Linked DNA regions of Homo sapiens: region 1 is linked to region 2. Evidence: fine-mapped expression QTL. A gene starts in region 2. The other region holds a variant in brackets. All regions are shown on one strand. Distances are between the middles of the regions. Region 1 has its middle 23 kb from the start of KCNIP1. Region 2 holds the start of KCNMB1 (potassium calcium-activated channel subfamily M regulatory beta subunit 1).

The links. PIP is the estimated chance that this variant, and not a neighbour inherited with it, causes the effect.
Region 1: its variant is fine-mapped to the expression of KCNMB1 in amygdala (GTEx, PIP 0.93).

Annotation. Positions count from the first base shown.
Region 1 is chr5:170,478,572-170,482,965 of GRCh38, forward strand. It overlaps a transcript of KCNIP1 not described here. Among named protein-coding and RNA genes, the nearest start is that of KCNIP1, 23 kb to the right of the region's middle. The variant C/CCTGA (reference allele first, on the strand shown) is at 1,811.
Region 2 is chr5:170,386,734-170,391,127 of GRCh38, forward strand. KCNMB1 (potassium calcium-activated channel subfamily M regulatory beta subunit 1) reads right to left here and starts at 2,634. Exons shown (of 4, transcript NM_004137.4): 1 at 2,526-2,634. It overlaps KCNIP1-OT1 (KCNIP1 overlapping transcript 1), which reads left to right and starts at 2,760. Exons shown (of 3, transcript NR_109899.1): 1 at 2,760-2,870. It also overlaps a transcript of KCNIP1 not described here. RefSeq lists enhancers at 749-1,249, 1,250-1,750, 3,675-4,175, 4,176-4,394.

The DNA of each region.
Region 1 (4,394 bases), 92 kb after region 2:
AGACTGTGCGACTCCACCATGGTCAGTTTCCCCGGGGAACCATCTCTCTACCAAGCCCAGTTTTCCATTGCAAGAACAATTGCCAAGATGTCTAAGTTTCTATGTGAGAATTTTGGCATCTTGGGTTCCTTTTAAATAGGACACACTTGTATGCTCTAAAGAAAAAAAGAAAAGGTTTCTCATGAAGCATTAGCTTTCAAGATTACAGTTCGGTAGGATGTTCAAGATGCTTAGGGTGAATAAAAATGACAGACAGCTGAACACTTCCTATAAATGAAACACCAATATAGATCTAAGTTTCATGCATGACTCTCAATGTGGTTAATGAAAAGGAAGATAAAAAAAAAAAAGGTTGGCCATATTTGCAGGGCATTTGCTCCCAAATGTTTCAATCCTGTTTTCTTTAGACTTTGAAAAGGGGGATTGCACGTTATCTGTCAAGAAGGCATCAAAGCAGAGAAATCCACAAATGTGTAGTGTCAGATAGAATTCAAGCCTTCAGAAAGGACTCCACTCCTTTGGTTACTAAGAGAACTAGGGGCTTGTATTTCTAAGATGTCACTAGCTGGAGGCGCTGAGCAGGTAATGGTCTATGTTTTCCTAGACTATAAAATCCTGATTATATGGTTTAATAAAATAAGAATCTCAGAGTTCTGATGGAAAACAAGTAAACTTCAGGTCTTAGCAGGCACTAGCAGAAAGCACCAGAGAAAACTGGGGGAGAGGTTAGGACTCCTGTCCCAAAGATCCCCCTCAATTATCCTGCCATGTTATCAGTTCCCTCTTTACATGTTACCAAACATGACTACTAATTTCTATTTTTTTCCAAGACTATTAGATGTATTCAAAATTCACTCTTCTTACAAGGATAGAGAAAAGTGCCTATCGATGCTTAATAACCCAACATATATTTAATAGAAGAATTAAATCACCTTCTGCAAAGGACCAAGAAAAGCTCCATTTGATCAATTCCTTTAAGACATGAAGACTTCTCCTTTTCTAAGAATCGCCATAGTAAAATGCAAGCTCAGCATGACATACCCCAAGGAAAAATGTATCTGTCCCTTCTGCTTTTACTACAGTTCCATAAGGGTAATACCGAGTTGTTTTGCCCACATGGGGGCTCTGGAATCTTGGCTGTGATGCATTGGTAGGATATTTGTCACCAAAACTGACTCAGCAATCAGTTAAATATTAAACAAAGCACTGATTAGTGTTCCTGATTCATATTTGTGCTTTGTTTAACATTTAACTTCCGAATTTTATACATCTATTAAACAATATTCCTCTTGACATTCGAACACTATCTGCACAATTAATAAATCAAAAACTTATTAAAAATTGAAACAATTAAAAATTCCCAAACTTATAAACCATTGTTTACAAAATTATTTAACCACACTCTCCAACACTTTTAAATAAAACCATAAGTTTAATATGTCAGACCCTTTTAAATGTTTCAAACACCTAAAAAGTCAGCAAAAATGCACACAAAACGTCATACTGATTGAAAAATATATATGCACACTTACCTTTACACTGGTTACAAAGGCATGAAGATTATGGGTATATATTGGTTTTAAAAAGTACTTTTATACTTATTCTTATATTTTCTCTGTTACTTTCTTAGAGTCAATGCGATCGTTTCCTAGGATTAGAGTATGAAGTGATACAGTTTCTCCTAAGAATACAAATTTCTTTCAGAACCAAAAGAAAAATAATCTCAGGCCAGCCAGCTCTGGGGTTACTGATTCTTATTTGAAACTGATAAAGTGTCTCCCAACATTATTGCACTTGAGCTTAAATGTGG[C/CCTGA]CTAAGAATATAAAAGTCCGTGCCTTCACATTGGTATCCTTTTCTGAGACCAGAGTGTTTCCTAAAGTGCGCTTCATCTCCTAGGAGACTAGGGATTTTTTTTTTTTTTTTTTGAGACAAAGTCTCGCTCTATCACCCAGGCTAGAGTGCAGTGTTGTGATCTCGGCTCACTGCAGCCTCTGCCTCCTGGGTTCAAGAGATTCTCATGCCACCACGCCTGGTTAATTTTTTGTATTTTTTGTATTTGAGATGGGGTCTCTCCATATTTCACAGGCTGGTCTCAAACTCCCAGGATCAAGTGATCCACCCACCTCAACCTCCCAAACTGCTGGGATTACAGGCGTGAGGCACTGCACCCGGCCAAGACGAGGAATTTAAACCCTGCAGTTTGCTGTCCTTACGAGCACATTTGGCCAATTATCCTTCCATGTTATCAGTTCCCTCTTTACATGTTACCAAGCATGACTACTAATTTCTATTTTTTTCCAGGACTATTAGTTGTATTCAAAATTCACTCTTTCCTTCTTACAAGGATAGAGAAAAGTGCCTATCGATGCTTAATAACCCAACATATATTTAATAGAAGAAATAATATCACCCATATATAAATCTGCCATTAAAAATAATATGAAATAAAACCCTATCGCATTTGCCATTTACATCAACTTTTCTCTTCATAGCTTCATTAGGAACTTACAGCTCTTCACAGACTCCATGTGTTTTAATTGATTATAGCCATCAATCTTATTTGATATTCAAAATCTCAGAGCTTGACCAGAGGAAACCTCTTTAATCTAGCTTCTTAGTCCTTCCAGAACCACCCTGTGATATTCTAGAAAGCATCCTTGCTTTCTGGTTACAAAAGAAACTTCCAGGCTTAAACCATTTGTTTTACCCTACTCAGGACAACCCTTCCAAAGAGCCCCTGTTTCTTTAAGTGGAGAAAACTGTTAGAGACAAAGTCTGGCCATTTAGGGGTACAGGAGAGTTGTGGTGGGCATTAGTACTACTCCTGCTGCTGCTGCTGCTGCTGCTGCTGTGTCCACTGTTAGTGACAGAAGTGGGAAAATATTTAAGTTGAGTTCACATTAGTGTTCCCAGTTTAGCGTGAGCATTGCTCCATTATGTTGTTCTAATGTAAAAATGTCAAACACATTTTTCTCAATGAGATACTTAACATTTTAACCCTTCATCCAAGCTATATGTTACACCTCACTTTTCTATAGTTGTATATTTAGAAAATAAATATTTATGAAATACTTGATATTTCTCATCAATCCTTGGTCACTCAATTGAAGGGTGTAGAAGTAAGGTCAGGTTCACCTTAGTGAGGGGCCTGCATCTAACCTTATCTGAAGGGGCTTATGAATTTGGGATTTATTACCTTGACAGAAAGAAATATTGAGAATGACCCCACCCATGCTTTATAGCAATCGCTCTTTATAGTTTATTTCATAGTGACAAGAAGGAACTCATCCATGGTGGGTTTTTCCCTGAGTGGTCTGTATGGTCATATCAGAACTGAAATCATCCCTTCTTGCTTCTGAGCCCCCGTTTCCAAGTCTTGTTCTTTGTTTCTGTAGGTAGTAAAGTGAATTCTTTAAATCCCTGCCCTCCATCAGCTGCTAAAGCATTCTGCTTCCCTCTGATAAGATTAACAGAATGTTGGCTGTGGTTACGGGATGCTTTGCAGTCTATGTCTTAAACCAAGCCAGCCATGTTAGCATTTCCTCTAGTGGTGGTGTTTTAGGCCAATTGAGAATGTGGGTGATATTAATATTTTCCAACCAGCTGATAACAGGAAAGACACTTCTGCTTGGAGTCCACTTTGAGAAGAGATTTATTATTTAGGCAGCACAGGACACCTCCATTAATCTTCCCCCAGCAGTGCCCATCTACCATCAAGTTCATATACTTTCCCCAGGGTTCAAAGAAGGGTATAATTTTAGCCAGCGATTAGTCAATATTTATCAATAAGAATAATAACAGTAAAATTACAATGGCCAATGTTTGAATCCCTAATGTGTGCCAGGCACAGTACGGGGCCTTTTGCAGCTATTATATCATAAAACCCTTACAACAGCCCCATGAAATTTGCACCATGATTTGCTTCATTTTACTTTTGGGGAAACCACGGATCAAGTAACTGAAGTGATTTCTCTAGGACTCACAGATGAGCGGTGGCAGAGCCTGGAATTAGATATATCTGATGTTAGTGTTTTGAGGAATCACTCTCCCCAAAAGCCATAGCTCCCAGACATTCTTATGTAATTTGTCTTTGCTGAGGCTTGGGTATTGATGATTTAAAAGTCCCCAGAGACCAGATTTCATCTGGTATGCTGTGGGAGTCAAGTAACGTCCAAGGCCAAGCCTGTCTGAGAGAGGTTTTTATTAGCTCCAAAATTATAATAACTTCCACAGCCTTCTTCCACCAATTCTGCCTTCCACTGAAACAGCGCTGGTGATGTTTAGAGGTATGAGTTTGGGACAATTATCAGGAGAAGCATTTTGGTGCTATTGTCCCACCCCTTCTGTCCTGAGAGGTTTTATCTGGTCTTTCAGTATTTCAAATAGGTCATGACTA
Region 2 (4,394 bases):
AGAAAGAAGGCATCATGGTGGCCTCAGCGACTGCTTTCTTATTTCAGGGCTTGAAGCCACCTGGGACAAAGCAGAATGGGCACATTCTGCTGGTGGTTGCTTTCCTTCTCTCCTCTTTCTTTAGGCAGCAACTCCTTGTTTTTCCCCTGGACATTGACTCCACCCCAATGCAAGCAAAGATTCCACCCTCCCCTGCTAGGCTCCTGATCGCTCCCCCAGGAGTGTGAGTCTTGACAAAGACTTCAAGAAACAGCCCCTCAATCTATGCCGCCTGGAGCCACAGAGATGCCCAGCCATGGTCCCCGCGTGATTTCCCATGGTTCCGCAAGCTGTCCTAGAGCCTCTGGTAAATTTATTTGCTGTTGTTTTTATTTGTTTAAAGTAACCAGAGTCCATTTCTACCAAAAATACCAGGAAGCTATCAATGTAATCCTCCATTTTAGGGGAAATTTTAGGGGAATTTAGGGGAAATTTTAGCCAGATATCAGGGGGACTTTATTCTCCTTGCCAGGTCCCTAAAGTAATAAACATATTATGGTTTTTGTTTGTTTAATTAGCCAGTGTCCGGGTGACAGGCCTTAGTCCAAAGAGATTTTCTGCAAAGTGCTCTATTTTCTGCTCAGGCGTCTCTTAACTACTAGACTGTTTCAAATATTCAGAGATTCTTGACTCCCTCCCCTTAGCCAGGCTGCCCTCATACCCGGGCATCTCCGCTAAAGGGAAGAGACCAGGGTCAGGCACCACGGATACCCATCACACCTTCCCAGTGAGCTGGTCCACCTCCCCTATCGATCGGCAGAGGTGACATCCAATGACAACTTTTTCTCCTTTATTTGGCACCAGGAGGTGAGTTTCTCCTGCATTCTAATGGAGACATTATAAAAGCACAAGCAAGCAGAAATTGCCCCCGACAAAGAGAGATGTTTTATTCAACTCTTTTTATTCAATCCTTTTCCTCCTGTTCTGTGATCTTGTGGGAATGGGAGAGCCCATGCCTTTTTCTACCTGGCGTCAGTTGAACAAGACTCTCCATGTATTCACAGGTAAAGCAACAGAATCACCTGGAGGTAAGCTAAAAGCCCCAACAGCCTGCTTCCCCAGGACCTGCAAGGGTCACTGGCACTTGGCCCCACCCCAGATACTGTGAGACATAAATCATTTGAAGCCAATGGGAAATCCCATCTTGGAAGCCTAGGGCTGAGTGCCCACAACAAAGCCATTTCTCTCCTGGGGGAACTGGATCGCACCTGTGGGGGCTTCCTGTGGCTCCTTCCTGGCTAATCAGCCCCCCCCAGCGCCCAGGGCCATGGCCTCCTCTGCTATTTGGCTTCTAGTGCCCTCTCAGGCCCCTGGGCACTCCTGAGGCTGGTGAAGGCAGGAACCTGGTTTTACCAGTTTTAGGAGCTCAGAAGGAAAGGAAAGGAGAGGCTTCCCTGTCACAGAGAAGTCTGGAAACTTGGCTTATTCAGGTCTGACCCGTCTCTAATGGTCTGATGAGATTGTTGCCTGCACTGAGTGAGTTTATAGAGTCATGATAAATCCTCCTAAGACCATGCGTGGGGTTCAGTGTAGATATGACTTCAGCAAGAAGTTAGTATTCAGCATCCAAAGGGAGAACCTTTGGCGGGAGGAAGGATGGGAACTGTCAATATCCCCCAAGGGACAGAAAGAAAAGGAAGAAGTGGGTTTCAGCTATCATAGGAGGGATTTCAGTTAGACTGTAAGAAGAACTTCCCAGTTTTGAGCATTTCTAAATATCTCTGAAGTTCCAGGATATATCTTCCCATTTAGAAAGGTCACTTGAGATCTGGGATAGATTCAGAGAAGATGGAGAAGGACAAAGGAAGGCAGGACTTTGGAGTGTCCTGGGTGACCTGATAGCTGGGTCGACATCCTTTTCCTTAGAAGGACAAGGAATAGAGTACATTGTTGAACAGTTTGGTGGGGTGTGGACAGGGCGATTCTGAGGTCCTCAGACATGGAATCAAATCCTGGCTCTGCCACTTACACTTAGCAACCACATGACTGTGAAACGAGAACCATGGTACCTGCCTCAGAGAGTTCAGCTAAAGATCAAATGCCATATTGAGTATCAGACATGTATCATAGCACCTAGCCCCAAATCAGCCCCCAGTAAATATTAGCTATTACTACTAACGAAGGAAACCCTGAAAGTTTGGAGCAGAAGTCTGGACCCCTCTTGATGAATCTATTTTTGTCCCACCTCTCTACCGGTGACAAGTGCCAGCATTGGTGTTAATCTCCAGGCTGCAGCCTTCTGGCCACTCTGAGAACTGGGACCTAGAGGGCCAGGGCGCTTACTACCAGAGTAACCTGGCCACTGTGCCACCCTCCCCACTGGCCACCAGACCACGGGCCCTCCATCCAGAAGGACAGCCCCGAGAGGAAGGGAGTCCTCCTGCCTGCCTCCCTCCCTGCCCCGTGGCAGGCTGCTTTCCCCTGTCTCCCTCCAGCCCGGTCTTCAGAGAAATCACTTCCCAAGTGCTTTCAGGCCCGGTACTCACAGTCTTCCCGGCGTCCTGTGGGTCTTGAGCAGCAGACAGTTTCTTTCTGCCTGGACCCCCGCCCCCACCCCAAAAGAGGCCACAGAGCTTCAGCAGGAAGTTTGGCCTCCCCGCCCGTCTCCAGGGAAGCAGCTTTTGGTCCCCATCTGGGGCAAGCCTCCATGCCCAAACATGGTCAAGTCTGAGCACACAGCCTGGAGACACAGACTCGGAGAGCAGGTACCCAGCCCTGAGGAAGGCAGCTGTTACCCAAGCCCTGCACCTCCATCTTCCCAGAGTCTCGTGGGAAACAGATTTCAAACAACAACAGACAGCAAGACTGAGAAACTACGAAAGATCAGCCTGGTATATTTGGAAATATTTCTTCTTCTCTCTGTCTCTGTGGGCTGGCAAAGATGCCAGAAATAGGAAATGATTCTCCTTTTGTTGGCATGAGGAAGGGTGGAGTTGGGCTGGAGGGGTTGGGCTTGTCACTAGTCCCTGGCATATCCACGCTGGAGCAGCTACAGCTCCCTGCCTTTGGCACTTACGTGCTGTGTGACCCTGAGCAAGTTATGGCACCTCTCTGGGCCTCAGTTTCCTTTTTTGTTTTTGGTTTTACTCCCAAACTTATCGTTAAATGACCTCAGTTTTCTCACTTGTGTTACTGGCATTTTTAAAACCTACTTTGCTTTAGGGTAGTGATGGGAGTTAGAGACGGTGGGGATTTATGGCAAGGGGAGAGAACTGACTTTTTAAGGACCAACTGAGCTGAAGCTGGGAGTAGTGAGAGCTCCACAACTGCTTCCAACCAGGTCCAGGGACAGTCTGCTCACCAGGGGCCCTCCCAGAGACCGCGAAAGTACAGAGATTTCTTCCTAGCAATAAGACAAGTGAATGTCAGCATTTGCAGGCAAAAAACATGCTTTTAGATCTCTGCTTCTTCATCTGTAAAGTGGAAGTAAGGATTAAAAATCAGCAACAAAGGGCAGGCACAGTGGCCCACGCCCATAATCCCAGCACTTTGGGATGCCAAGGTAGATGGATTGCTCAAGCCCAGGAGTTTGAGACCATCCTGGGCAACATGGCGAAACCCCATCTCTACTAAAAATACAAAAATTAGTCGGGCATAGTGGTGCATGCCTGTGGTCCCAGCTACTTGGGAGGCTGAGGCAGGAGAATCGCTTGAACCTGGGAGGCGGAGGTTGCAGTGAGTCAAGATTGTGCCACTGCACTCTAGCCTGAACAGAGCGAGACCCCGTCTCAAAAAAAAAAAACAAATATATATATATATATATATATTTTCAACAAAACAACAAAAACAATCCCAGATATTGGGGCTTTCCTAAGTATCAGGCGTGGTGGTAGAAGGCAGCTTATCTCCACCCTTCACTTGACCCAAGAATCAAAGAACCTGAAACTGAGACTTGGAGGCTTGAAGTCACTGGTGCAACCCTAGGGGCCAGAACTAGATTCGAAGCTGGCCCTTCCAGATGGCACAGCTTGGTCTGTCTCTGATGACCCTGGGGCTGCTCTGAGACATTAAAAATCACCTCGATCATACAGTAAGCTGCCACCTGAGGCTCTGGAGGTCACCCTGAGTTTCCCCAGCCCCCAGGGAGGTGGGTGCAGCCTGGCCTTCCCTGCTGAGCGAGCTCACCACCTTCCTCCCTCCTGCCTCCAGCAGGCGCGAAATGAAGGCAGCCACTCAGGCCTCCCTGACACACTCTCAGGCGGTGAGTGCCCTTCTCCACCCCTTTCCTAATTGAATCTTATTAACAGGAGACTACAGTGTCTGTTTAATGGGCACCATAGCACCAGAGGGTCTAAGACCAGCTTCAGACCTTGCAGGCAGATTGACAGAGGGATGTAGGATCTGGAATTCAATCT